Linked DNA regions of Homo sapiens. The protein of the gene in region 2 purifies or fractionates together with the protein of the main gene of each other region. This does not show direct contact. Each region holds a gene or a part of one and is shown on either strand. Other genes may lie near its edges.

What was found.
Region 1: the proteins of CBFB (region 2) and KCTD13 purify together in Homo sapiens (co-immunoprecipitation; one large-scale study listed by IntAct). This does not show direct contact.
Region 3: the proteins of CBFB (region 2) and BCL11B purify together in Homo sapiens (affinity purification with mass spectrometry, with the first as the bait; one large-scale study listed by BioGRID). This does not show direct contact.
Region 4: the proteins of CBFB (region 2) and WRAP73 purify together in Homo sapiens (co-immunoprecipitation; one large-scale study listed by IntAct). This does not show direct contact.
Region 5: the proteins of CBFB (region 2) and ETS1 purify together in Homo sapiens (affinity purification with mass spectrometry, with the first as the bait; one large-scale study listed by BioGRID). This does not show direct contact.
Region 6: the proteins of CBFB (region 2) and LRRC32 purify together in Homo sapiens (affinity purification with mass spectrometry; one large-scale study listed by BioGRID and IntAct). This does not show direct contact.
Region 7: the proteins of CBFB (region 2) and SMPDL3B purify together in Homo sapiens (affinity purification with mass spectrometry; one large-scale study listed by BioGRID and IntAct). This does not show direct contact.

Annotation. Positions count from the first base shown.
Region 1 is NC_000016.10:29,919,173-29,923,226, reverse strand, and holds part of KCTD13 (BTB/POZ domain-containing adapter for CUL3-mediated RhoA degradation protein 1), read left to right. Parts: coding exon 1-37; coding exon of another isoform or gene 38-91; intron 92-1,265; coding exon of another isoform or gene 1,266-1,373; exon of another isoform or gene 1,374-3,696; intron 3,697-4,054. UniProt on the Homo sapiens protein: Substrate-specific adapter of a BCR (BTB-CUL3-RBX1) E3 ubiquitin-protein ligase complex required for synaptic transmission.
Region 2 is NC_000016.10:67,094,693-67,098,451, reverse strand, and holds part of CBFB (core-binding factor subunit beta), read right to left. Parts: intron 1-3,759. UniProt on the Homo sapiens protein: Forms the heterodimeric complex core-binding factor (CBF) with RUNX family proteins (RUNX1, RUNX2, and RUNX3).
Region 3 is NC_000014.9:99,255,099-99,259,152, reverse strand, and holds part of BCL11B (B-cell lymphoma/leukemia 11B), read left to right. Parts: intron 1-1,313; coding exon 1,314-1,682; intron 1,683-4,054. UniProt on the Homo sapiens protein: Key regulator of both differentiation and survival of T-lymphocytes during thymocyte development in mammals.
Region 4 is NC_000001.11:3,647,078-3,651,596, reverse strand, and holds the start of WRAP73 (WD repeat-containing protein WRAP73), read left to right. Parts: upstream 1-1,493; 5' UTR 1,494-1,597; coding exon 1,598-1,666; intron 1,667-4,036; coding exon 4,037-4,189; intron 4,190-4,519.
Region 5 is NC_000011.10:128,577,439-128,581,492, forward strand, and holds part of ETS1 (protein C-ets-1), read right to left. Parts: intron 1-4,054. UniProt on the Homo sapiens protein: Transcription factor. Directly controls the expression of cytokine and chemokine genes in a wide variety of different cellular contexts. May control the differentiation, survival and proliferation of lymphoid cells.
Region 6 is NC_000011.10:76,663,997-76,668,050, reverse strand, and holds part of LRRC32 (transforming growth factor beta activator LRRC32 isoform a precursor), read left to right. Parts: intron 1-2,092; 5' UTR 2,093-2,096; coding exon 2,097-2,180; exon of another isoform or gene 2,181-2,185; coding exon of another isoform or gene 2,186-2,203; intron 2,204-4,054.
Region 7 is NC_000001.11:27,951,562-27,955,615, forward strand, and holds part of SMPDL3B (acid sphingomyelinase-like phosphodiesterase 3b isoform 1 precursor), read left to right. Parts: intron 1-1,653; coding exon 1,654-1,797; intron 1,798-2,792; coding exon 2,793-2,965; intron 2,966-4,054. UniProt on the Homo sapiens protein: Lipid-modulating phosphodiesterase. Active on the surface of macrophages and dendritic cells and strongly influences macrophage lipid composition and membrane fluidity. Acts as a negative regulator of Toll-like receptor signaling.

The DNA.
Region 1 (4,054 bases), about 37 Mb from region 2:
GCAGGGCCTGATTGAGGACTGCCAGCTGGCGCTGCAGGTGAGGGCCTTCGGAGTCCCCATGCCTATGTTCCTGGGAGAGCTGCCCAAGCAGGTATTAGAGCAGAAAAAAGGAGATATGGGGTATGGCTTGGAGAGCCTGGCTTTGGCTGGCCATAACCCCAGAGAATTTGAGGTGCCATCTTCTGCATCCCTGCCGCCTCAGGCAGCACCCCCACCCCAGCCTCATGCCAGGACCTTTGCAATGGTTAAATAGCTGCTCTCTACTTCCCACTGTTCCTATGCAGCCAGTCCAGCTGTTACACTCGCACCTGAGTAATTATCTTTCAGCACAACCCCGATCTATTCTCTCTCTTGCTTAGAAATCCTAAATAGCTCCCTCATGTCACTAGGGAAAAACATCTAAATTTAAATTGAAATATAATAACCTCTGCGATCTGGCCCTATCCTGGGAGGCAGCATTCTCCCATGGCTTCCGCCCCCCAGGAGCTTTCTAATTCTTTTTTTTTTTTAAACAGTGAAATTCTTTATTCAAATGAAATCTCACAGAAGCAGGGCCACTCCCAGTAAAACAGGGTTGGGGATTCTAGAGACCCCACCTGCTAGGCTCCACTTTTGTGGACCCCTTAGGGTTCTGAGGAGCAGAGCTTGGAAAGTGAAGCCAGGACATAAGGGTTCTGTGTCACCTCTGTCACAGCTGACTCAGTGACCTTCAGTGAGTCCATTCCTACCTCTGGGATTCTGTCCTCGGGTTCCGAAAGACAGGGAAGGGAGAAAAATAAGTACAAAGTAGTGAGTTTTACATAAAGCCTGTTATTCTGTTCTATTTTTACAATGTTAAAAATGTCCTTTCTTTTATGTTACAATAGTAAGAGAAGATTATAAAAGTTTCTTTTTGAATGCCCTTTATAGATTAAAAGGTTGCCTCCCTGAACAACTTTTGTCTCAGGGAATACTTACTGGTTCTTGAAGCCCAAAGGTGTAGAACTCCTTTGGACAATATCCATGTTTTTCAAACTTTTTGATTGCCTGCCATAGGGAAAAAATGCATTTTAGTACTCATTATATATAACTGAAATAACAGTTCTATAAAAAGATACTTTTAGTGAAATGTACTCTGATAATCTTTCTTTTTAATGCTGTTTGGGACCCATTACTTATTTCATGACCCATTAATAAATTACCACTTGCATTTGAGAAACATTCATTGTACTAGATCTTGGAAGTGCATTCCTGCTCTGTAGCATTTTTGTTTTGTTTTGAGACAGAGTCTCTCTGTCGCCCAGGCTGGAGTGCAATGGCGTGATCTTGGCTCACCGCAACCTCTGCCTCCCAGGTTCAAGCAATTCTCCTGCCTCAGCCTCCCAAGTAGCTAGAATTACAGGCGCCTGCTACCACGCTTTGCTACTTTTTTGTATTTTTAGTAGAGACGGGGTTTCACCATGTTTGTTAGGCTGGTGTCGAACTCCTGACCTCACGTGATCCATCCGCCTTGGCCCCCCAAAGTGCTGGGATTACAGGCGTGAGCCACCGGCCTGTAGTTTTAAATTTACTAATGTTAAAACTAAAGTTTTAAAACCCGGCCTGTAGTTTTAAATTTACTAATGTCATCATGTACCCACTGTGTGTCAGGAGCAATTCTGCTATCTGCTTGTGTATACATCTTGTATCCTTGTTTGACGTAAAAAGAAACGCGAGGGAGCTTGGAAGACGTGTCCAAGGTGAAAGAGCTGGGAAGCAGCAGAGCTCAGATTTGACCCCAGGCTACCTGACTATCTGACCTTCAGCCTCCCAAGAGCTGTACTTTTCTATACTCCTGCTCTCTCCTTTCCAGGTTCCCTCTGCACCTCACGCAGCTCAGCACACTCCTCAGTGTGTGGCACTTCATCAATATTGGTCTATGCAAACCTTTTGTCTTTTAGTTTTATTTCTTTCCCTTCATTCCCAGTCCCCTGCCTACTTTCCTTTTTCCCAGGGGCACCCATCCAATTTTAATGTTTTGATACATATGCTCGAAAAGCTAAAGCATTGTTCTGCATATGTGTGCATTTTAAATGTCCATAAATGGCATTGAAGCTGTGAATCAGTTTCTGTTGCATTGTGTTTTTTTAATTCAGCACTTTTTTTCAAGATCTATTCATGCTGCTCCAAGTACATCTAGTTCTTTGCTTCTAACAGCTGCAGAGAAATCTGCGGTGTTCATTCACCATATTTTGTTCATACATTCCCCTGAGGTTGGAGACCTAGATTGCCTTCCAGTTCCTGCCCCTACAAACCGTGTCACCATGAGCATCCTGGTACATGCTCCCTTCTGATTCTGTGCCAGTCTCCTGTCATTGTAGCTGGGAGTAGAATTGCTGGATAACAGGACACCTGCAAACGGCGTTTTAGTAAATATCATCTAATTGCTCTCCCGAATGGTTATAATACTTTATCCTCATAATGAGCAGTGCATAAGAGATTACATTTCTGCATGTCCTCATCAAGACATGGCATCATCCAGCTTTCTAATTTTGCCAATCCAATGAGTGTAGCGTGATCTCATTTTCATTTGCATGCCTCTGATTACTAATGAGGTTCAGCATCTTTTCATATACTCACTAGTGTTTTTTTGTTTCCCTTCCTGTGAATTGCTTATTCATGTTCTTTACCAGATTTTCTGCTTTTTTCTTTTTCATGTTGCTTAGCAGGAGATCCTTGCATATTTTAGTTTAGTTCCTAGGGATAATTAAGCCCTACTGCATATGGGTATGTCTTATACATTCCCTAGGGCATGGATTATATACATAACAAATTAACCTCTAAGCCTGTAGCATGGGACTATTTACCTACTGTTCTCAGCAAAGTTCAGAAAACACTCAAATTATTTGCTGTTTTTTTGTTTTTGTTTTTGTTTTTCTTTTTTTGAGGTGGAGTCTTGCTCTGTCGCCCAGGGTGGAGTGCAGTGGCGCGATCTTACCTCACTGCAACCTCCCTCTCTGGGGTTCAAGTGATTCTCCTGCCTCAGCTTTCCGGGTAGCTGGGACTACATGTGTGCACTACAATGCCTGGCTAATTTTATCATATTTTTGGTAGAGATGGAGTTTCGCCATGTTGGCCAGGCTGGTCTCGAACTCCTGACCTCAAGTGATCCACCTGCCTTGGCCTCCCAAAGTGCTGGGATTCAGGCGTGAGCCACCGTGCCTGGCCATATTTGCTGGTTTTTGAGATTCAGATGAGGAACTTCAGTTGAAAAAGTCTGTTCTAGATAAAAATTTCTAGTCAATGTAGATATCGCCAATATTTTTTCTTAGAATGTCACCCACTTGTGGCATCTAGCATTGAATGGAAATCCTTGATTTTTTAAAATTACAAATAACCATTGATTATTTTAAAGCAGTATTTATTAATTGTAGAAATTTCAGAAACACAAATAATCTAAAAAATAAAAGCACCAAATATTCTTCCAGGTCGTTTCCTGTGTGAGAGTATGTGTGTGTGTGTGTGTTTGCTTGCCAAAATACAATCGTGTTGTATGAAATGTTTTATAATCTGTTTTTTGTTGTTGTTAATAATTGCCATCTTTACATGTCAATAAATTTTTATTTAATATCCAGTCCAGGGCATACTCCGGTTTCTCCAGTTGTTCCAGAAATGTGTTTTTACAGCTGGTTCATCAAACCAGGGTCCAGTCTAGATCTTCACGTTGCATCTGGTTATCTGCAAGTTAACAATGGAAAGCATGACTTTACAAATAGTTTCATGTAATAATGTTGAAGAGATGATAAGAGTTATAGGTATTCTATGGCACGAATGTAATTACTGGTTCAGGTAAGGATTATCATTGATAGGTAACTGCCTTAATACAGTTACCATAATAATACCATAAGCATTACTTTATTACATAAGCCAAATAATACCATAAGCATTACTTTATTACATAAGCCAAATAATACCATAAGCATTACTTTATTACAATCCAAGGGGTCCCTTTTTCCTCACGATGCTGGCTTGTTAAAGAGACTGCCAGTTGTCCTGCACAATGACCCGCTTTCCAACTTTGCCTGGTTGTTTACTC
Region 2 (3,759 bases):
TAACAACAAATCTAGCACTGGGCGCAGTGGCTCATGCCTGTAATCCCAGAACTTTGGGAGGCTGAGACGGGCAGATCATTTGAGGTCAGGAGTTCGAGACCAGCCTGGCCAAAATGGTGAAACCCTGTCTCTATGAAAAATACAAAAAAATTAGCCAGGCATGGTGGCAACACCTGTAATCCCAGCAACTTGGGAGGCTGAGGCATGAGAATCCCTTGAACCTGGGAGGTGGAGGTTGCCGTGAGCTGAGATCGCACCACTGCACCCCAGCCTGGACGACATAAGTGAGATTCCATCTCAAAAAACAAACAAACAAACAAACAAACAAACAAACAAAAAACCCCACAACAAATCTATATTTACAGTTTTGGAAAAAGAGGATTTAACTTTAACACATTAGCCAAGTGCCTTAGAAGCAAACTCTTCCTTTTAGTAATAGCTGACATTTATTGAGTATCAGCTGTCTGCGGGCACTGTTGTAAGTACTTTCCATGAATTAAATAATTTTTTAGAGAGATGGGGTCTTGCTATGTTGCCCGGGCTGGACTGCAGCGGCTATTCACAGGTACGAACATAGCACATTACAGCCTCAAATTCCTGGACTAAACCAATCCTCCTGCCTCACTCGGCCTCCCAAGTAACTAGAACTATGGGCACATGCCATAGGACCTGGCTAGAACTAATTTAATCCCTCCCAACAACCTATGACATAAGTGCTATTATTTATCTCTATTTTACAAATAAAAAAACTGAATCACAGAGAAGTATATGTTCTACTAATTATATGACTGAAAAATGTAGCACTTTATTATGGATAAAGTATTGTCTCATATGTTAAAAATAGAAATATAAAATTAGAGTCCTGGGTGCACTTATATTCCCAGATGCTTTTTTTTTTTTTTTTTTGAGACGGAGTTTCACTCTTGTTGCCCAGGCTGGAGTGCAGTGGCGCAATCTTAGCTCACTGCAACCTCCAACTCCCGGGTTCAAGCAATTCTCTTGCCTCAACCTCCTCAGTAGCTGGGATTACAGGCATGTGCCACCACGCCCGGCTAATTTTGTAGTTTTAGTAGAGATGGGGTTTCTCCACGTTGGTTAGGCTGGTCTCGAACTTCCGACCTCAGGTGATCTGCCCGCCTCGGCCTCCCAAAGTGCTGGGATTACAGGCGTGAGCCACCACGCCCGGCCCCAGATCTATTTTTTTGTTTGTTGTTTTTTTGAGACAGGGTCTCACTCTGTCACCAAGACTGGAGTGCAGTGGCACAATCTCTGCTGACTGCAACCTCTGCCTCCCCGGCTCAAGCGATTCTCCCACCTAAGCCTCGAGTAGCTGTGACCACAGGCACACGCCACCACACCTGGCTAATTTTTGTATTCTTTGTAGAGACAGGGTTTCACCATGTTGCCAGGGCTGGTCTTGGAACTCCTGGGCTCAAGCCATCTGCCTGTCTTGGCCTCCCAAAGTGCTGGAATTACAGGCATGAGCCACCATGTACGACTCAGATGTATTTTTTTTTTTTTTTTTTGAGACGGAGTCGCTGGAGTGCAGTGGCGCGATCTTGGCTCACCGCAAGCTCCGCCTCCCGAGTAGCTGGGACTACAGGCGCCCACCACCACACCCAGCTAATTTTTTGTATTTTTAGTAGAGATGGGGTTTCTTTGTGTTAGCCAGGATGGTCTCAATCTCCTGACCTCGTGATTCACCCGCCCTGGCCTCCCAAAGTGCTGGGATTACAGGAGTGAGCCACCGCGCCCGGCCCAGATGTATTGTTATAACAATATTTAACAATTAAGAAGCTTGACTAGGTCTATAAAATAAAAATTAGAAAAAAATACTTCCTGTTGACCAAATCTATTTTAAAAAAAGAGGCTTGACAATTATAAACACCAAGATTTCAAGATTCACTTTGGAGTCAACATTCCTATTTAAACCCCTTATGGTAAATTACTTAATAGAGAGACTATATATATACATATATATATATGTATATTTTCTCCTTCACAAGTTCTAATATGTGGTTATTCTATAAGCTTTCTTTACTGCCTCCAAATGTTGGCCAAGCACAAATATCTGTTTGTATCCAGAATGTGGTACTAAGTACTTTCCATGAATTAACTAATTATTATTATTTTTTTTTTTTGAGACAGAGTCTTGCTCTGTTTTCCAGGCTGGAGTACAGTAGCGCAATCTCAGCTCACTGCAACCTCCGCCTCCCAGGTTCAAGTCATTCTCCTGCCCCGCCTCCCAAGCAGCTGGGAGAACAGGCATGCACCACGACACCTGGCTAATTTTAAAATATTTTTAGTAGTGATGGGGTTTTGCCATGTTGGCCAGGCTGGTCTCGAACTCCTGGGCTCAAGTGATCCACCCACCTCAGCTTCCCCAAAGTGCTGGGATTACAGGCGTGAGCCACCATGCCCAGCTGAATTAACTCATTTTGTTTTAAAGAGATGAGGTCGGCTGGGTGCAATGGCTCAATGCCAGTAATCCCAGCACTTTGGGAGGCCAAGGTGGGCGGATCACCTGAGGTCAGGAGTTCGAGATCAGCCTGGCCAACATGGCGAAACCCCATCTCTACTAAAATACAAAAATTAGCTGGGTGTGGTGGCATGCGCCTGTATTCCCAGATACTCGGGAGTCTGAGGCAGGAGGATCGCGTGAACCAGAAAGGCAGAGGTTGTGGTGAGCCGAGATTGTGCTGTTGCACTCCAGCCTGGGCAACAAGAGGGAAACTCTGTCTCCAAAAAAAAAAAAAAAAAACAGATGAGGTCTTGCTGTGTTGCCCAGGCTGGAGTGCAGTGGCTATTCACAGGCACAAACATAGCACCCTACAGCCTCAAACTCCTGGGCTCAAGTGATCCTCCTGCCTCACCTTCCCAAGTAGCAACAGTTTTCCTATGTTAGATAACTGCAACTCCATTTTACCAGTTGTTTGAGCAAAAAGCTTTGCTCTGTCGCCAGGCTGGAGCGCAGTGACGCAATCTTGGTGCACTGCAACCTCTGCCTCCTGGGTTCAAGCAATTCCCCTGCCTCAGCCTCCCAAGTAGCTGGAACTACAGGCACGCAGCACCACACCTGGCTAATTTTTTGTATTTTAGTACAGACGGGGTTTCACCATGTTAGCCAGGATGGTCTCAATCTCCTGACCTCGTGATCAGCCCACCTCAGCCTCCCAAAGTGTTGGGATTACAGGCGTGAGCCACCGTGCCCAGCCTTTTTTTTTTTTTTTTTTTTTTTTTTGAGACACACTTTTGCTCTTGTTGCCTAGGCTGGAGTGCAATGGCCTGATCTCAACTCACTGTAACTTCAGCCTCCCAGGTTCAAACAATTCTCGTGCCTCAGCCTCCTGAGTAGCCGGCATGCGCTTCCATGCCCGACTAACTTTTTTTACTTTTAGTAGAGACAGGGTTTCACCATGTTGGTCAGCCGGATCTTGAACTCCTGACCTCAGGTGATCCTCTTGCCTCAGCCTCTCAAAAGCACTGGGATTACAGGCATGAGCCACCAAATCCGGCCTCTTTCTTAAAATTCTGATATATTTCTCTAGCATGTTTTAACTGCTTTTGTTAGCAGAATGGACAATGACTAAATTTTAGCACATTCTTTTCAATTAAATAGGTTATAGTACACAGTCACAAATTCAAAGAGCTATGGAATACATATGCATCAGAAAAGCAATTTATGTTCCATACACAATCAATGCTAAATGCAGTGTAAGGACAGATCAATTCTGCAAAATCAGAGATGGTGATATAAAC
Region 3 (4,054 bases), on a different chromosome or scaffold from region 2:
TCTGGCTTCCCTGAAGACCCCGCCACTCGTGTCTTCTCTACGACTACTGACATTTGCTCTCGAAAAATTCCAGCCCGAATTTGCTCAGACCCCGAGGGGAATATGAAACCTCCACACTGTCCACTTCTCTTTATTTATGACACTTTTGGCTGCCGAGTCTTCCAATTTTCCCTTGAGGAGGTTGCTGCTTTTTGAGGCATTTATTAGCTTCCAAATATTTGGGTCCTAGGCTCCCTACTCTCTCCCCCACAAAAAAAACCCAAGAGAAATCTATCGGCTGCTAAAGAAATATAAAAACATACAGTCCATTGAAAGTGTGGTTTGATATCTTCCAAGAAATGCTTTTGGAGTCTGGAGAATTTTCTTTCTTTCATTTTTCTGGGAGTGAAAATAAAATCAACAAACAGAAAAGGACAGTGGGGAGTTGATGAGTGTGGGGGAAATCTACAGAGAAATGGAAGTCTGACCGGGCCTCGGGTGCTTGGCAGGAGAGCCTGCTTCCCGACTCTGCAAGCCGGTTCCAGCCTCCCTTCTGCTGCAGTGCTTTCTCCTAAGATATTTTTTTGGAACCTGACACTCACTTGTTGCTTTCTGAGCATGTGGGCTTCCTTCTCTCCTAAGGACGGGCCCTTAGACGCCCATCTGGGTTTCTGTTTTCTAGTTTGGTGTGTGGCCAGGTCCCAGGTAGAGGAATGTGAGTGGGATTCGCATGAATGGGGAGGGCATGAATGAAGGTGTAAGGGATGGGAGGGGTGGGGCTCCAGCCCAGCAGGGGGAAAGGGCTCCAGCTCACTGGTTCTCGGCCCTGGCTGCCCATTGGAATCACCTGGGGAGTCTGAAAGACTATTCCGATGTTTGTTCCCAGTGTAACTGGTCAGGGGTGCTGCCTGCGCCTTGGGATTTTTCAAACCCTCCAGGTGATTCTCAGATACTGGAAACTTTGAGAGACACATCACGACCTCATGCTGTCAGCAGCCAGGGTGTGTGTGTATGCACGTGTGTCCGTGTGTGTTCTTATACTACGTTGGGGAGAAACTGGCAGAAAATAAACTAGAATGCAGTAAGATCGGCACTACTTACGTGGCAATGCCCAGGGGGCACGACGTTGCTCCTAGAGCCTCAGTGTGCCCATCTGTCCTGTGGGGGATGCTCACCAGCCCCCAACCCCGGGGAGGACCTGGTGAGCTCTGGCAGCCAGCAGCAGAGGGGGCTGCTTCTTGGCGGGGAAGGGGTGGACCGGAAGTTGGGTGCTGTGACCGCCTAAGCCCATCTCTATCTTCTCTGCCCCTTCCCTTTCTTCTTTCTGTCTCCAGCAGAGGCTGACCATGTGGAGGCCGCCATCCTCGAAGAAGACGAGGGTCTGGAGATAGAGGAGCCAAGTGGCCTGGGGCTGATGGTGGGTGGCCCCGACCCTGACCTGCTCACCTGTGGCCAGTGTCAAATGAACTTCCCCTTGGGGGACATCCTGGTTTTTATAGAGCACAAAAGGAAGCAGTGTGGCGGCAGCTTGGGTGCCTGCTATGACAAGGCCCTGGACAAGGACAGCCCGCCACCCTCCTCACGCTCCGAGCTCAGGAAAGTGTCCGAGCCGGTGGAGATCGGGATCCAAGTCACCCCCGACGAAGATGACCACCTGCTCTCACCCACGAAAGGCATCTGTCCCAAGCAGGAGAACATTGCAGGTATGGGATGCTGCGCTTGCCTGGTTGCTGTGGAAGCCACCTCCTGGGTCCCATGCCCTCTGCCTGAGTGTGCTGGTGCAGGGGAAGGCCCAGGGGCTTCCAGGATGGCCTCTGGGCCACCAGCCGGGGCTCCCCCTTTCTGAGGGTCCACCATCCAGGTGACCTTCAGGAGGAGACAGGCCTGGGGCTCGGGGAGGCCCAAATGGCTGATGGCTGCTTGCTTTTGGTGAGGGGACTCTGTCTCGGGGGCTAATCCAGAGGTGGTCAGAAGCACAGAATGAAAATTTGGAAGTCTGGTTGGCCCTCTCTTTGCTACTGATCTTGGCTTAGTCCCTGATTTTGAAGCCAGACAGTTTTGGGTTAGAGTTTGTCTTCACAACTTGGACATGTTAGTTTGCCCATCTGTGAAATGGAGCTAAGGAAACCCACCTCATTAGGGTTGCTGTGAGGACGAATGAGCTGTTGCATGCGGCATGACCTGGTAGGCACTTAGGAATGGGAGTGCTCATTCTCTCCCCTCTCCTTTCTCTCTGGACTCAGTTTCCCATGTGTGAAATGAGGAGTTAGGCCCCCTGATCTCAGAGGTTGCTTCTGACATTGCCCGACCCCAGGGGCCGGTCCCAGGCAGGGGTGTGGGAACTTGTTGGAGCACTGTGCCCGTTGGGGGAGGTTGGATATGCCCTTTGACATGCTCACTCATTTGACCACTGGGACAGCTGGTTTTACCACCTTGAGAACAGGTCTAGGGCCCCTCTGTCCCCAGGCGTGGGTCTGCTCACCACAGTGAGTTAGCATGAAGTCCCTCCCTCTTGGCCAGCACCATGGCATGCTGGAGCCTCTTCCAGGGAGCCGCTGCTCTCTGTGCAAACCAGAGTGTTTGTTTCTGGTTTATACTTCTGAGCCCAGGAGGCCTGGGGGAGAAAGGAGGGCCTGGCCAGCCTGGGTTCCCTAAAAAGCAGCAGCCTGTGCTGGAGCAAGATGGGCATCAGAGTTTATGCAGACGAGTGTTCAAATCCTGATGGTTGACTTTGGATTAGCCACTTCATGGGTCCGAGCCTCAGTTTCCCCATCTGTCAACAGAAAGTGATAATAGCAGCAGGCCTGGTGTGAGGATTAGATGAGCAGGGGCTCTTAATCAGTCTTTTGCCCGTGGCACTTCTCTCTCAGAGGTTTCGTCTGGCTCTGCGGTGTGCAAGTAGGTGGCTGGCTGGGGAAACGAGTGCATTGATCGTTACCATGCTTCCATCATGGAAGGTAGCATGGGCTCTGGAGGGACTCAGGCTTTCGATGCTTCTAGGAGGGTGAGATGGATGGGCATGGGCACTGATCAAGACCCATCACCCAGGACGCAGTCAGGGTAATGCTGCAAGCCTGTCTCCCCCACGTCTCCAAAGCTTTGTGATGCTGAGCCTCACTTTGCTCACCTGCACAAGGGGCTTAGTGAGCCCTCTCTTTTGTGGGGAGACTGTGGTGGTATGCAGAGTCCTGCAGCCTCATGCCAGGCACTGGGGAGACATCAGTGAACCAGATTGGCCTCTGGGCCTTGCCTTCTGATGGGTGCCCTAGCATGAAGTGTCTCATACACTTTCCAAGATGCAAGGGGCTTTGAGACATGTCCAGGCCACCGGCATGTAAACACTGGCTTCTCAGAGTGCTATGTGCACCTGAGCAGCGTCTCTTCACCGGGCTGAGCCATCAGGCGAGAGAGGTGCTGGGTCCCTTTTGTCTTTGTTGGTCCACATTCCAGGGACAGTTTTACCTGTAGTATCGACGCCTGGCCTCAGTGCACATCGATCTTTCAGGGGTGGCCTTGCTAGGGAGACTCGGGCCGCCTATTTATGTTTCCATGGAAAGATTTGCTGCTTTTGCCAAAAACATCCAAATCCTCATTTCACATTGAAGGCATTTCCCAATGAGAGGCTGCAGATCACTGTGGCAGGTTTGTTTAAGAAAGTGACTAAATGTGATTTCATAAAAGGCAAAGCTAATCTCCAAGGCAGCTTTGTCCTCATCCTTCCACCCCCTGGCCCCCCTGTTTTTTTTTTTTTTTTTTTTTTTTTTTTTTCCAGGTTGTGATACTGCAGCAGCCTACAGTATCTTTATTTTATGTGTGACGAAAGATATTCTTGGCCTTTCTGTTCAGCAACAGGACGAATGGATTTCTTCATTCTAGAAGAAATATGTAAAATAATCCCTTAGAAGTCTAAAGAGATATGTTTGTTCAAAGCATTTAAAATGTTATTTTAATCAAAGGCACAAAACAGTCTACATGCTGTGTCAGCTGAAGACGACCATCCCATTTTAACAGCACACATGCGCCTGCCTTCTAGTTCCCATTCCTCCTATTTCCCTGCCTACTTGGGCAGCAACTT
Region 4 (4,519 bases), on a different chromosome or scaffold from region 2:
CCCGCCGCCCCGCCCGCCTGCTCCTCCTAGGCCATCGGGGCTTCCAGGGCCCTCGACCACGTACACCAGGCCCTGGCTAGGGGACCCGACATGCTGGGCGAGTTCCGAGCGGCTCTCAGTGGCGGCGCTGCTTATGGTCTGATGCTTATGGGGCCCGTGATCTGGCTCCGAACCGATGTCCTCTGCCCATGGTGACCCCCACGTCTTGGAAAGTCGCGTCAGTGAAGCCCGTGGCTTCGCGAGCGAGCCGGGCTGGCGCAGACTGGGTTCTCTGGCCGCAGCGGGTCCGCGCCTGACGGGGAGGGTCCGGCTGACTCGCACATCTTCATGGCTCACCCACTGTTTGCTGGGCGCACGGGGTGGGGACCCAAAGACGAATCCCATGCAGAGGTTTGGGTCTAGTTTTGGCAACAGAAAAGGCCGGCACCGCCGGAGTAGGACGCGCGCGCACCACCATCCATTCGGCCGGGGAGGTTGGGGCGTCCGCGGGGAGCAGACCCGAGGCTGGGCGCCCGGAGGTACGAGCAGGACCCTGGCCGGCTCTCAGCTCCCAGAACCCAGGGCCAGGCGGGGATGTCAGGGTCTGCGCGATCTGGGGGGCCCTAGAGGCGCCGGCGGGGCCTGGCGCGGACTACTAGCGGCCTGCGGGAGCCAGGGGTGGAGGGGGCCGCTGTCTAGGGAAGAGGACCGGGGTCCGGAGTGGGGGTGAGAACGAGGCACGCCCCTGAGCCTGCGAAACCTGCGGACCGAGCGCCCGCGCAGGAGCTCGCTCCCTCTGGGCCCCCAGGTCCCAGACCCGCACGATTCTTCGCCCGGTGCCAGCCCAGATGCGCGCGGGTGATGAACGGGCGGTGGCCGCGATCCACGCGCTCGCTCTGCCCAGTCAGCGGCAAATTCGTTCTCTCCTTGATCTCAGTGGCACTGGAGCGTGAGGCAAGGGCCAGGCGGCAGGTAGAGGGGTCGGACTCAGCAAAAGCAAACAAAACCCCAAGCAAACGAAATAAATACTTATACATTACATACACGATATAATATATGTGCGACAGACACCGTATTACTTATTAAAGATATATTTGTAGGTAAACATATATTTACATGTAAACATACATTTACATATAAATATAAATATATATATATGCATGTGTACACACACGCAGACACACAGGTCGCTCAATTAAATTTGAATTTCAGACTAGCGAGTAATTTTTCCGTATTAGCATGTCCCGTGCAATATTTGGGAACATACTTATAACTAGATTTGTTGTGAATCTGAAATTCAAATTTTACTGTGCTTTCTACATTTTTATCAGCAGCCCTAGCTGGAGGTGCTCAAAGGCCTCCCGGCCTTTGAGGTAAGGTTCTCGGGTCGGAAATCCCTGGTCGGAAGAAACGTGGGCGTTTCCTTTAAAGCCCTGCGGCACAAGAACTACAAGCCCCACAATGCCGCGCGGAAGCCGGCGGCGCTGATAGGCTGCAGTTCACTTCCGCCTTCTGACTTCCGGCCTCGGAGGCCGGCGTCGGCTGTTGCAGCCTGCTGCGCGCCCAGGGGTCCCGCGGGTTTTCGGGCGCAGGGTGGCGCCCGCGGCAGGCGGCGGCCATGAACTTCTCCGAGGTATTCAAGCTCTCCAGCTTACTCTGCAAGTTCTCCCCGGACGGCAAGTACCTGGTGAGCGGCGGGGACCTGGGCCACGGGCAGGACATCCTCGGTGCCAGCGTCCCCGGCGGGCAGGGCCGGGGGCGGCCGCGTGGGTGGAGGCAGCTTGGGGATCCTGCAGGTGCGGTGCCCGGACAGGTGCGGGGCCCGGGCAGGTACCCGGGGCAGGTGCAGTGTCTGAGCAAGTGCCCCAGACAGGTGCGGGACCCAGGAAGATACCCTAGACAGGTGGAGGGCCCGGGGAGGTGCCCCAAGCAGGTGCGGGGCCCAGGCAGGTACCCCAAGCAGGTGCGGGGCCCAGGCAGGTACCCCAAGCAGATATGGGGGCCGGACAGGTGCAGGACCCCGGCAGGTGCCCGGGCAGGTGCGGGACCCAGGAAGATACCGTAGACAGGTGGGGGGTCTGGGGAGGTGCCCTTGGAAAGGTGGGTATCGGCAGTGCCGACTGCACACAGGTGAGGGTATAGGAGATGTCGGCTCTTTGTTGTTACTTTGTCACAAAAGGCAAATTGATGATTCTGTTGCCTGTAAACTGGTAAGTGGTGTGGCTACTTTGTCATCTCTACTTCTCCTCTAATTCTCTTCTCCTCTACCACATGCCGAATAAATGATTTAAATACTAGTATTCTATCCCCAGGTAAGGAAGTAGTTGTCCTCATGGCTGGGATTTGAGGTCTTCGTTCCATGGGTGGCAGAAGGGTGCTTAAATCACAGAGCTATAACTTTAAGCTTCAAAACATATAGTGTATGTACCTGGATGCCTAGTAGTGTATATCCTCAGAAGAGAGGGATAACCCGGATGCCTAGTATGTATGTCCTCAGAAGAGGGGGACAATTGGCATTGGAAAGCCACTAAGAAGAAACATGCCTCGTAAAAAGTGGGCTTCGTTTTCCTTATCCACCACCTGTACTAACTGACTGATGTATCATGATGCTTTTTCAGGTTTTGCCACTCCTGACATTCCTGTGCTCTGTCTAGCTTTTGAGAGTTTAACTCTCAAATTACGTTTTTTACCTCTTCAGGGAGGTTTTATTCCAAATCACATAAAATAGCATCAGCTACAAAACAGAAAACCTCATTAGTTTAAATGGCATCTCAGCCTTGGTATATTTTCAATGTGCCCCCCTCCTCAATTAAATGAGAGGTTTGTTTTTTGTTTTTACCATTTATGAAAATTTCAGTGAATTATAAGGAGAAAGATTACATCTGCTTGCTTAACTTGGGTGTTTTTTTCCAGCTTGTACACTCTGGTCAAAATACCCTGAAACACTTGGTAATGATCTGTTACTGGAATCATCTTCTTGAAAGCCCTGAGGACTGGGGAGAGCAGGTCCATGTTTCTAGTTTTCATATCTTGCAGTAGAGTTTATGTGGTTCCTCAAGGTGTTGGTAAAAATATTCCATTTCATAAGGAATTCACTGTAACTGATCACAGTTTTCAAAGCTACAGTGTGAGAAAGTAAGTGCTGTGGTAGCTCCTTGTTCCAATCTGCCGTCACCCGCCTGTCTCTCTTTTCTCCCACGGAAAACTAACGTGGCTTTCTTTTTTGATATCGGTTCATAAAACACAAACTACTTTGACCTTGATAAGTAAAACTAACGAAGCAGTTAATATTTAAACATCAGTTCTTGATCTTGAAACTGTAGTAAAATATACATTCAGCAGGTGAGTACTCAGGCGTTATTTTTACTTGAAATTGTTTGCTTGGATAGGGACATAATGAACAAATATGGACAAGAAGAAACTATCTTTAAGAAAATAGTACTAACACTTAAACATTTCCCGTTTCGTGTTAGGAATAGGTTAATGGAGATAAATGAGCATTTGCGAAGCATCTTTATGTGTGCAGAAGTGAAAGCCTGTCTTTTGATCTTCTGTTGTTTTGGCTCTGAGTTCGGCACTGCATAAGAAGATTGATGCATTCCTTGCCATTTTCGTTGTCATCTGTGAAGCCTCAATTCTTACCCTTTATAAATTTGAGGAAATTGTCCAAAAGTGTTTATAAAACTAGCAGAGGATTTTGGTTATTAGTTCACAGAAGAGCTTTCTCCCAATGCTACTTCCCATTTAAGTTTAGTTTTTAACATACAGATAAGAAGGGACTTAAAAATGTCTTAAAGCTTTAAGTAGCGAGTTAAAACATACTTTTATACTTTACAATAGAGTATAGCAATATTAAAACCTGGCTTGTATATTTCAACATTACCCTTGTATGAACTGAACTGATCTTTAGGGGCTGGGGATGTCACTGGTGATCTAGACATGAAACCTCTGGCAGGAGAGAAGGCCACAGTCACTGAAGGCCAGGGCAGTAGCATTCCGAAGGCCCCCCTCTTTTGGAGTGGAGAATGTCAGGTGCTTGCTTTCTCATATTTTTTAGGCTTCCTGTGTCCAGTACCGGTTAGTGGTCCGGGATGTGAACACCCTTCAGATCCTTCAGCTGTACACGTGCCTAGACCAGATCCAGCACATCGAGTGGTCGGCAGACTCGCTCTTCATCCTGTGCGCCATGTACAAGCGAGGGCTGGTGCAGGTGTGTGCTGCCGTGTCGCTTAGAATCTGGACACCTTCTGAGGGCCCCTGGGAAGGAGGGGTTTTGTTCTGTGCCTTTCTAGTTTGAAAAAAAAGTCCGTGCAGCTCAAAGCCAGTTTTCTTTTGAAATTATAACGTTCTCTAAAGTTTAAGAACATTTAAACTAAGGAAACTCCAACGTAGTCTTAATTTCTAAGCAATATAGTTGAGAAACGGAGGTGTTGACAGCAATCTAGCCACGCGGATGTGGTGTGTTTCAGGAAGTCCTAAGAAGTCGTGTTTTCTTCTGTGTCCAAAGCTTAACTAAATGAGGTCTTAGGAATGACAATGT
Region 5 (4,054 bases), on a different chromosome or scaffold from region 2:
GTCCACTCTGTTAGAATTTAAGCTCCCCAAGGGGGAGATTTAGTTCATTTATTCACTCCAGATCCCTGGATCCTAGGCCAGTATTGGAAAGTAGCTGGCACATAGATAACTGTTAAATACAATAGTGTAAGTTAGAAAACTTGTACACACTTTTTCAGTGTAAACCCCTCTTTTTACAAATGAGGAGAAAGACTAAGGCGATGCTGCTAATTGGCCAAGCTGAGACCAGACTCCTGGTCTTCAGCCTCCTCCTGTGCTTAGAGAAGATGCTTCTCTAGACCTTTGTTACCCAGCGTCCAAATCATTTTTGCACCCAAACAGGTCTCATGGATGCTGCTTAGCTGGGGAGTAAATCTTCAGATGCCACAGTTGCTTTGCATTTATGCAATAAACGTGTGCAATGCTAAGAAAAAAATTGGTGCAGCTGATGTTCAAGCAGTTGTCACGTGGGAGGGAATTCTCTTCTGCCAAAAAGCCAAAAAAAAAAAAAAGAGAGAGAGAGAGAAGATGCTTCTCTAAGCACCCTCATCACCCTGGATGGCGAGGACAGAAACAAGCATGAGATGGAGAAGACAAAAAAGTCAACACTTTGGCTTATGTGGGTGTCTCATGTCCAAAAAATCACTTTAAAACTATGGTTCTGCTTGATTCTAGAGAGTTCTATTCTTCATAGAGCGAGTGACCACTTCTCCAACTTCCCACCCTCCCCAAACTGGCAACCCGGCCAGGACCTGTAGGCTCTCACTTCCTTTCACCCAAAGCTTGCCAGGGCAGGGCAGGGCAGGTTGAGAGACACAGAATAAAGGAAAAATTAGGGAGGAGAGGGACTGTTCAGGCCAAGGCAGCAGAAGAACAAGAAATCCCAAAGAGACCAGGCTTGAATCAAGGCTGAATCCAGTTCACATCAACTCTGACCCTGCTTGGCTGTATTTCTAGATAACTTTGACATCAGTTAAGCCTTTTTCATTTGGGGTTATGTATTCCTAAAAGAAAAACTACGCTTTTAGGTAAATACCAAGTAAATTACACTTTAATTTTTTTCTTTTGAAAACAAAATTCTTTTGAAATCAGCAGTTTTTGCCAAACTAATACAATGTTACCGCAAAAATTAAAATACAAAAAAGTAACAGATGGATATTAGAATCACCTGAAACCTCACCATGTAGAGATAATTATACTAATAATTTGTTCAATATTCTTCTGGGTATTTTTTAATCTATCTAAACGAACATAGATGTCACACACACACACGTGATTACAATTTTACCTTCATGAGATTATTCTCCACATGTTCTTTTGTAACCTGCTTTGTTCACTGACATTTAACATAATGCTATGGACATTTTTCTCTGTTGATAAATGTGGCTGTCTATCCTAAAGATGATGACTGCCAAGTATTCTATTGTATGTATATATCATACTTTTAAAGAGCCTCTTATTATCGTATAATTAATTTGTCCCCAATTCTTTGTCATTATAAAAATTCCTAAAATATTTTACATTCCCACTAAATGCCGAAAAAGAGCATTTTGGGGACAAAGAAAATATGCATTCCATATTTGAATACATATTGACTAACTGCATTCTATAATAGACCAGCCAAAATTAGACTCCCACTGACAAAGGCATCATGTTTTAAATTTCAACTTGCCCTCTCGTCTTCATGTTAGCTTCATAGGCAATGAATTATGGTTAAAACATATCCTGGGTATGAAGATGGCACATGGGGAATTCAAAAGCACAATAAAGCTGTGGCAGAAAATGTAGATTTCTCCCCACCACCCCTCACCCCAGCCTTTCCTCTTTGAAAACAATGCAAAATTTGAATAGATTTCCAATGAGCATTTATCCTAATGTCAATAATTTAGGATTCCTATCAATTCAAACAAAAAGCATGTCCTTTTGGCTTGGAATACAGGAGACAAAGAATTTGGCTTCCAGGGCTGGGCTCGGTGGCTCACGCCTGTAATTCCAGCAATTTGAGAGGCCGAGGCAGGCGGACCACCCAAGGTCAGGAGTTCAAGAGCAGCCTGACAAACATAGTGAAATTCCATCTCTACTAAAAATACAAAATTAGCCAGGTGTGGTGGTACATGCCTGTAATCCCAGCTACTTGGGAGGCTGAGGCAGAAGAATCGCTTGAGCCTGGGAGGCAGAGGTTGCAGTGAGCCGAGATCTCGCCATTACACTCCCACCCGGCAACAAGAGCAAAACTCCATTGAAAAAAAAAAAAAAAAAAGAATTTGGTGTCCAAAACAACTAACCATGTAAAAAAAACTTGCTCCAAACAACAGCACTTTTGCCAAACTAAAGGCAACACCTGGGCTACCAAGGCAACATCTTTAATCTACAATGTATAGAGTTTTAATTTCTTTTTTCTGAATACTATAGAAATGTATTTTTGAAGACTCAGAGTATCTCCTCTTTCAGGAAGCTTTCCCCTCCCCCCTACCCTCTTTGGCAATTGCATGGACCTCCTTGATGCCCCTCCATGGGATTTACTGTAACGGTGTAACAAAGTTCATGACACTTCCTGTATCTATGCCTGTTTCTGCTCCTGAATGATGAGTAACTTGAGAGTAAGGATGGTGTCTTTTCAGATGACACATAGTAGCCATGCAACAAGTGTCTGTTTACTAAATGAGGGAAAGTACCTAAAGTACTTGAAACAGAGTTGGTGTGTACAATCCTTGTGCGTCCTGAGCTTATCCAAGAGAGTAAGTTATCGTTTGGACATTAAAAAAAAAAAAAAAAAAAAAAAAAATCCCTGTGATGAAGTGTGTCCTTGTGTGACCCTGAGGTTAGGCTTCTCAAGAGTTAACTACAAGCAAGATGGCACTTTTCTCTAAACTATAGGATGTACCAGATTGATGAGTTCATCTATACTCCTTCAGTGTGTTCTTTCTGATTCTCATGAGTAGCCCACGTGTATTTCCCAAATCATTTGAGTAGATGTCTTCCCTGACCTGTCACTGTAACAAAAGCTCCCAAATCCAATTCTCTAAGAACTCAGGTTTAAGATCCATCATATCTAGGAAAGCTGAACATTCCTTACTCCCCATGGAAACTTTGTGGTTACAACGCATAGAAAAGAAAAAGGATTAGAAGAACTGAAGATGGTTTTTCTGTCTCACTACTAAATCTACAAGAACCTCATTTGCTTGACTAAGTAATCCAACATTACAGTAGTAGTGAATATTCCTTCTTATTTTAAGTAGCCAGCACTGACAAATGAAGGCTGTGTTCCAAATTATGGGCTACTGTCTTCTGTGTCTTAAGCTAAGTGCATTTATTCTTTCACTAAGGTTACAGAGCAGCAACTCACAGTACAATTAACATCTCAGTCTTTGTTTCTTCACAACTTCACTATAATTATTCCGCCAACCCTTGCTTAAATGGAAATGAGTCATATCCATCTCCTATTTCTCTAAAAATAAACCCATCTCCTAATTAAGCATAACACTTTCAAGTCCTGTATGAATTGACATAGCTCAACGAATCCTTCTTAGAATATTAAAATGAACTCATGTCATTATAATTTTAAAGAGTATATTGTTTTACCCTTCCTTGAGGAGTAACTCGCTACTATCTCCTGAAAAAGAGAAAGACTAGAAGATGTTTTACTCTGGTATACCATAGCAGTTAAGAAATAAGGAATGCTTCATAGATTATTTTATGCATTTCCTTCTCAGTGGAAACAAATCCCTCACCATACAGTACTGAAATGGCATTGTCAACAATGGACAGAAAGGTCTTGCTTCTCCTAGGCATCAAGGAAATACATTAAAACCTGCCGACTCTTAGGTCTAGGAATCTAACTAAGAAAATGCCAATTCTAGTCTCTGAAACCTTTGAAATACTAACAATCTACACTTTCTAGTCAATCATACTTCTGTCAGAACATCTTCCTGAAGATCAAAGGTAATATTCAATACACTGCCTTACCATAAAAGTGGCCATAGCCTGTGTACAAATGCTATGCCTCAAATCCTGTATTTTACCATGAAATTCAACAAATGATCACACTTGGCCTTAGGATGTACTCCTGAGCCAG
Region 6 (4,054 bases), on a different chromosome or scaffold from region 2:
GGAGGGGGTGGGGCCCAGTAGCCACGGAGGGCTTGGTGCTGTGCTCACTGGAAGCTCAGGGGCTCTGGGAGGACTGGAGGACATAGTCCAGACTTGGGGAACCAAAGAAGGCCTCTTGGCCCATCTAAGCTGGGACCCCAAGGATGAGGAGGTCTTTAGCAGAAGAGGAGAGGGGAGAAAGTGAAGGTTTGGGGCAGTGAAAATCTGCTCAGGGAACTGAAGGAAATATGAGGTGTCCAGAACCCAGAATGTGAGAGGGGACACCGGGGAAGCAGGCTGGAGAGCAGAGCTGGCCAGGCAGGGCATGCTCCCCAGTGGCCTGGAAGGCCCTGCCGGAGGGGTTTTCACTCAGTTCTGAATATGCTAACTTTCTAACGGGCGGTGGCGTTCTGCTTTTTAAACAGCAGAACAAAGTTTCCTGTGAAAGCACAACCTGTAATGCAGGTGAGAGCAGAGCAGCTGCAGGGGCAGCGCCTGTGGCCCTGAGGGGAGCCAGGGAATAGGGTTTACCGGGTCCGGCTGTGGTCTGTGCGCCTTCAAGAGAGATGGGATTCAGAGCAGCCATCTTCGTCCATAGCTCATCACTAGCGGGTTCCAACAGTCAAAGACACTGCCCTCAAATGCCCTGTGAATGCCTTTTCTCCTGCAGCATCCTTCAGAATCGCGGTTCAGCACTCACTGAGGGAGCACCCACTGTGGGAGGCCTGGGAGTGTGGATTTGAAGGGCACAGACCCAGGAGCCAGACTCACCTGGGCCGGTGGCTTGTTCACCGTGTGACCTCGGGCATAGTACCTAAGCTCTCTGAGACTTCTTTTTCCCTTCTGTAAAATGATGATGGAACCAAGTCATTGAATTTTTGTGAGGATGGAATGAGTTCATGCCTAGAAAGTGCTGAGGAGAGGGCCTACTGCATAATGGAGGCTCTGTAGGTGGCATCTCGTTTGATTCTCAACAAAAACTTGGCATGGCTGCCATTAACCTCAAATGAGGAGACTGAGGCTCAGAGAGGTGAAGCGACTTGTAAGATCACACAGCAGAAAGGTAGAGGAGACAAGAGGGAGCAGTCAGATGTGGGTGACTGTGCGCCTGGTGCTCTTGGAAGGCTTTCTGTGTCCCTCTTTAAGACTCTCTGTCTGTATCACCGTCACTGTCACTTCTTTTTCGTGTTCATTTGTTTTTTGAGTTCCCAGTTCCCAGCACAGAGCCAGACATGAGGAGGTATTCAGTAAAGGTGTGAATGAATGAATGAAATTCATGGGTGGATTTGTACATCCCTAGCACTTGGCTGATGTCCTTAGTGAGGGAGTGAGTGAGCCTCCAGCAGCACTGGGATTTAACCCTGCTAAGGGCCTGTGCGGTCCCCTTAGCCCCACCCCTGGCTGCTCTTAGAGGGAAGGGCTGGCCCAGGAGGCCGGAGTGTGGCTTCAGTGAAAGTACAGGGCCTGCCAGGCTGCTCCTGGGGAAGTCCGCAGAGCAGTGCCGGGGCAGCCAGGCCTCCTGTGGGACTTCCTGCCAAGGCCCGGGCCCAGCCCTTGAACAATGGCAAGGGCTCGAGAATCAGAGAATCAAAAGGAAAAGGGCAAAATAAAGGTGGGGGAGTGGGCAGAAAACGAGGAATTGCATGTGGGGACTGAAGAGCTGGTACGGAGGACTTGTGTGGCCTGGGTGGAAATGTAGTCAGAGGCCCACCCTCCAAACCCCCTCTACATCTCCATGCCCCCAGTCCCTGGCCCTGAGCATGGCCTAGGGTAACCCTTAGGGTCTGTCAGCCTTCTGTGCATCCCCTCCAGGCTGTCTTCCGCCAGGTGGGGTCTCTTGAAAACCCCCGTCTGACCAAGTCACCTGCCGCTTAAAACTCTTGCTTCCCCTGGGTAATGGGCGGCTCCTTGGCCTGGGTGAGAGGCCTACTATGATGGGCTGCAGGCCCATTTCCCACCTGGCTCTCTGCCCTGCTCAAAGCATCTTTATTCCAGCTCCAGCCGTGCTCTGGGGTTCCCTGAGGGCAGGCACAGAATGGGTGGGAGTGGGGGCTGGCAGTGGGAAGGAGCCAGTGGGCTTACAGTGTTCCCCTTTCCTCTCCGCCTTACACAGAGCCATGAGACCCCAGATCCTGCTGCTCCTGGCCCTGCTGACCCTAGGCCTGGCTGCACAACACCAAGACAAAGTGCCCTGTAAGATGGTAAGATGCTCTGCCCAGACAGGGTGAGGACCACCCCCACCTCCCTGCCCTAGGGTGTGCTAGTGCCCCAGCCCCAGAAGCCAGAAGTTAGAAGAGTCAGGAGAGGAAAGGGAATGTACCTTGCATTTAATGAGCACCTACTAGAATGTTTAAACACCTTATTTACCCACAGTCCTGCCAGGTAAGCACCATTATTCTCATTTTGCAAAGGAGGAGACTGAGGCTTGGAGAGATTGGGCCTTGTCCAAGGTCATTCAGCTGGGAACAGTGAGGCTGATATTACACTGTATTCCCCCAAGCTGTCCCCACAGAGCAGTAGGCCCAGCTAGGGGATCTAGAATATATATATATGTGTGGGGAATTTGGGGTAGGCCAGCTGGGAGGGGCTCCTCTGTGCTCATCCCTCTTGGAGACAAATCCCCTTCCAAGCTGGGCTCCTTGACTTGGGACTGCCCGCTGGAGTGCCTCTCACTTCTTAGTGCCCAGATCAAATGCTGCCATCTCCAGGAAGCCTCCCCAGCCCCTCCCAGGCTGGCCTAGTCTGATCACACCTTCCTCTGGGTTCCTGCGGTCCCCAGGCTTCCCCCTATCTCAATACTGAGAAGACTGAACATGTGGGGTGGTTGGTGAAAGGGTCCAAGCCTGTCTCACCTGCCAGACCATGAACTTCCCTAGGGCAAGGACCAAGTTTGATTTGCTTCTATTCCTTTTTCCTGTCCCAAGCCAGGGAAACTAGCCCTAAAGTTCTTGTGACTCTATGAGATACAGGGCAAAGAGAACACCTAGATCCACTTGTAAGGCCGGGCAGTCACTGAGGCCAGAGCCTGGCTGGGGAAAGGGCAGGGCCTCCGGAAGCCCCTCTTGGACCTGAGACTCGAAGAAGCTTATGACACAGAACCGGCAGCTGCTTCAGGAGGCAGGAAGTGCAGGCAGCTGCCTGCCCGCAGCCCTTCCCTGGGGGTGCAATGTCTCCTGTTGCCACCACCTTTCTTGCTCTTCAGAGCCCTTCTAAGATTCCCGGAGCCCAGAATTGCGGGCAGAGAAGGCCTCAGATGTCACCAAATACAAACGCACATTCTACCTCAGGGAGACGAGGCTCAGAGGGGAAAGTCCTTGACTACCCAACAGGCAGAGGGGAAGCGGGTGAATTTTGGAGTCTGGGGAAATGAGATAAGAGATAGGAAAGCACTTTCTGAACCAGCATGGGAATAATACACACGGGAAGTAAGGAGAAGATGTGTGACCCACCAGGGACCTACAGGATTCGAACCCAGCTGCCTTTGCCACTGTTCACTGCCTGGTGCCTCTCCCTACTCTGCTTTCCTCCCATGATCAGGTGGTGAAATGGAGTTGGATGGCAAGTCTTTGCTTCTGAAAAGGAAGCTGGGCAGTGGGTGTCCTGATAGCCCAGGACAGTGGGTGGGAGCTCTAAACTCTGGTCAAGGGCCAATTCCTCCAATTCCCTCCGACGGTAAGTCAGGCAATGCTGGGAGCTCAGAGCTGAAGGAGGCATGAAGACCCTGGAAGTGGAGCTCTGAGCACCGCCCTGGACTTCAAGCTTCTTCCTGGACTGGACTGGAGATCTGGGCATCCCAGTGCAGCCCTGCCCACCATCAGGCCCCCAGGCTTCTAGAGCAGGGGTCTTGGGCCCCTGAATGGAAAGCCAGTCTTGGGCTGTGGGCTTGGCAAACTTTGTGTCCTGGATCAAGTCTCAGGGGCTGGTGCCCCAGGGAGCCTTTGCCTATCCAGAGGCAGTATGCCTCTGCACTTGCCCGGGGGTAACACGCGGGGCACAGCACGGTGCCCCCCACACTGTAACAGTCAGTAAGTGGGTCCATGATGCTCTTTGCTGTGCTGACCAGCTGAGGGCCCAG
Region 7 (4,054 bases), on a different chromosome or scaffold from region 2:
TGGGCCAGGTGCAGTGATCATATGCCTGTAAACCCAGCACTTTGAGAAGCTAAGGCTGGAGGATCGCTTGAGGTCAGGAGTTTGAGACTGGCCTGGGCAACATAGCAAGACCCTGCTTCTACAAAAAATAAAAAAAAATTAGCTGTGTGTGGTGCTGTGTATCTATACTCTTAGCTACTTGGGAGGCTGAGACAGGAGGATCACTTGACCCCAGGAATTTGAGGTTACAATGAGCTATGATCGTGCCACTGCACTGCAGCCTGGGAGGCAAAGGAAGACCCTGTCATGCAGGGCCCAATTCTAGCTCTGGTATGGTTTAGCTGGGTAATCTCATAAAGACTCAGTCTGCTCCCTGTGAAAAAGGAAAATAATGGTACCTGTCCACAGGGTTGTTATGAGGATTAAATAAGGTAATTCATTCACTCATTTAGTCAATCAACAAATAGTTATTGAGCATCCACTATGGGTGAGACACCATTCCAGGAGTAGAAGACATGGCAATGAACAAGACACCAGGTCGCACCCTCATGGAGCTTATGTTTGCAAGGAGCTGGGCACACAGAAGCAGTGAAAACACAGGAGTGAGTCCCTCCCTTCTCATAGGGATTTTTTTTTTTTCTTAAATGGATTCTTAATGGCTGCTGGCATTTACTTTAGAGAGGTGAGGTTTTTCTAGGCAGTTACAGTGATGCGTTTTGACAACCTCCTACTTTGGCAGAGTTCTCAGCATTTCCAGGTCTTGTCGGCTGTACAGGGCAAAGGGTGTGTTAGAGATATTTCCCAACTGGAATGGGAGGCTCCAGCCTCCCTCATTTGTTCCAGGTCACTCCCTGTGATAGACTAAGCTCATATAAGGGCCCAGCCCTGTTCTGAGTCCAAGAGTTATTTTTGTTGATTGTCAAATATTTATTGAGCACCGATTAGGTGCCAGACACTGAGCATAAAATAAAAACAGAAATGAGGCTGTTCATGTGGAGGAAATGAGTCTAATGGGTTCCCCTACACCTCCAGGCCTCATTCACAGGCCCCTTCCTCAGGGAGGCCTCCCCAAACCCACTCCTACCCTCTGTTATTACTCCCATAGCAAGTGGCCATTCCCTTTCTGTGACATCCCTTACACCTCTACTCAATACCTGTCAACCCTATTGAACTGCAGGACCTCTGGGGCTGGAAGCCTGGTTTCCAGTTCTATGCATTGGCTCATAGTTGGTGCTCAATAAGATACTTGCTGACTGCATGGATGAGTGAAACTCCTAAGGCCTCCCAGAGTGACGCAGACCCTTTCCCTAACAGTAAGATGATCTGGAATCAACAGGAATTGGGAACACTAAATTACCAAGTGGCTGATGACGATCGGACTCATTTAGACCTAGTTTTCCCCTTCTCATCATCTGCTGCTTTCCTTCTAACTAGGAAACTTTCTGCTGGGAATGGGTTTAGGGACTGTGATGAAAGAACCCACTGCTCTTCCCTCCAAAGTCTAAGCAAAGTTCAGTCAGATTCTATCAAATGTGGGTTTCCTATCTGTGTCTTTTCCTCATCTGTGCTATCGCTCTTCCCCTTGAGCTCTGATGGCCAGTGGCCAACAGAAAATGATTAACTCCCCCGAGTGCTTTTGCATATATATTTTGATATTTCACCCTTTCTTCCTAGATACTAAAGTCTATGCTGCTTTGGGAAATCATGATTTTCACCCCAAAAACCAGTTCCCAGCTGGAAGTAACAACATCTACAATCAGATAGCAGAACTATGGAAACCCTGGCTTAGTAATGAGTCCATCGCTCTCTTCAAAAAAGGTACCAACACCACCTGCTCCTATCAAGAGCACTTACTGTATGCCAGGGTCTGATCTTCGTCTTCACAACAACCTCTTAGAATAAGTACTGATTTTATCCCCAATTTACAGATAAGGAAGCCAGGGTCATACAGCTTAGAAAAGGCAGTCTTGGGAGCAGACTCCAGAATTAACTCCAAAGCCCTTCCTCTAAACCCCACGACACTGATGATGCTCCTAAGTTCATATTTATTGAGCCTTTACTGTGTGCGAGGCACTGCCCTCTCAGCCTGGTCCTAGACACTTCACAACAACCCTTGGAAGGAGTGGTTTCATTTCCAGCAGGTTTGAACCTTGCCACCACTGACACCATGGGCTGGATAACTCTGTCGCAGACAACTGCCACGTGTGTTGCAGAATGTTGCAAACACTCACTAGAGTGATACCCTCAGGAACACCCCCAGCTGTGACAACCAAAAATGTCTCAGACATTGCCCAGTGTTCTCTTGGGCCAGAAGCACCTGGTTGAGAATGACTGGTTCAGAAACACAGCCAGCCCAAGGTGACTTTGACCCTACTCTTCCCTTTCCTCGGTCTCCTGCTGTTGGGACTCCCCAGTGGTTAAAGCCGACCAGAAGCCTGTGCCACAGAAGCCTGTTGATTTAGTCCACATAGATCAGCTCTTGGAAAAGACAGCTGAGCAGTGAAGGGTCGACAGTGGATCTGGATGGGCAAACACACATCACTGTTAGTCTCACTATGCAGATAAGGAAACCGAAGTATAGAGAGGTGAAGTTACTTTCCCAAGTTGCACAGCGAATGAGTTCCAGAGCCAGGAATTGAATCCAGGCCGCCTGGCTCCAGAGCCTCTGATCTTCCAGATTGATGTCCCACCCATGGGAAAGATGGGAGGGGAAGATGCAACGGAAAAAGAAAGTGGGACATTGAGGTGGAAGGGGCGGAAGCCTGTCTGGCCAGAGGTGGGGGCCTCCTTCATATTGTCCCTGGCTGTGACAGGTGCCTTCTACTGTGAGAAGCTGCCGGGTCCCAGCGGGGCTGGGCGAATTGTGGTCCTCAACACCAATCTGTACTATACCAGCAATGCGCTGACAGCAGACATGGCGGACCCTGGCCAGCAGTTCCAGTGGCTGGAAGATGTGCTGACCGATGCATCCAAAGCTGGGGACATGGTAAGAGGCCCTGCTTCTTTCTTTTCTCATCTGGGGTTATTTCCTGCACAAGTCTCCCGCTTGGCACAAACTCACCCACCCACCCAAAGATGCCCATATCCCAGAGGGTCCTTTATCAGCCCGGCACCAGCAGAGGGCTTCCTCCATCCTCACCACAGCCCTGTGTGCTGGGATCTGGAGCCCACTGCAGATGAGGACCCTGAGGCTCATAAAGAGTGGTGACGGTCCCAAGTCACATAATAAGTGACGAAGCCCAGACTAGAAGACCAGACTCCAAGTCCAGTGCTCTTTCCACTCCCACCACATGCACAGCTGCAGCCAGTACTGTGTGCCAGATCTCCAGGGGATGCCCTGCCCTTGAGTGTGTCCAGCTAGCCTGCTGGCCTGACAGCTCCTCAAGGACTGGCTCAGTGTCTCATTTGCCCAAGTCCTTGCACTGACCAGCCCATCCCAAGAGGATCTCACAGCTGGTGCCCATGAGCATGCACTATGCCAACATTGGGCACGTTGTTTAGGACATTATGCGGATGATCTCAGGTAGCAGAACTATGGAAACCCCGGCTCAGTAGCGAGTCCATCATTCTCAAAACCCCACCAGCTATGTGCTATTCCAGATGAGAAAACAGCAGCTCAGAGAGGTGATACACAGCTGGTGTCTAAGCTGCAGTCTGACTCCAAAACTCATACATTTAACTCTGTCCCCTGTTCTAACTCCTGCCATGGTGGCCAAGTGCCCAGGTGTTGTCAGATGAGTGACTCAAGGAATGTAAGAAACGAATGCACATTACCGTGTAGCATATCACACAACCACGCAAGAATGGTTTCGTTGCAGTGTTCAAGCTCTCCAAGAGAAGAGTAGTCTTTGAAGGATTAGGAAAGCTTCATGGGGGAGGTGCTCTTTGAAGTGTGGGGAGGATTTACAGAAGTGAAAAGGAGAAGGGTACTCCAGGTGGCAGGCACAGAGGTGGGAAGGTATGTGGTGCATTCATTGCAGGGCACAGGGAGAAAGTGGGACATGGAATCCGGGAGGCCTTCAGGGAGGAGATACATTTGGGCCTGTCTACCTGCCTTTGGGGCAATTTGCAGGTT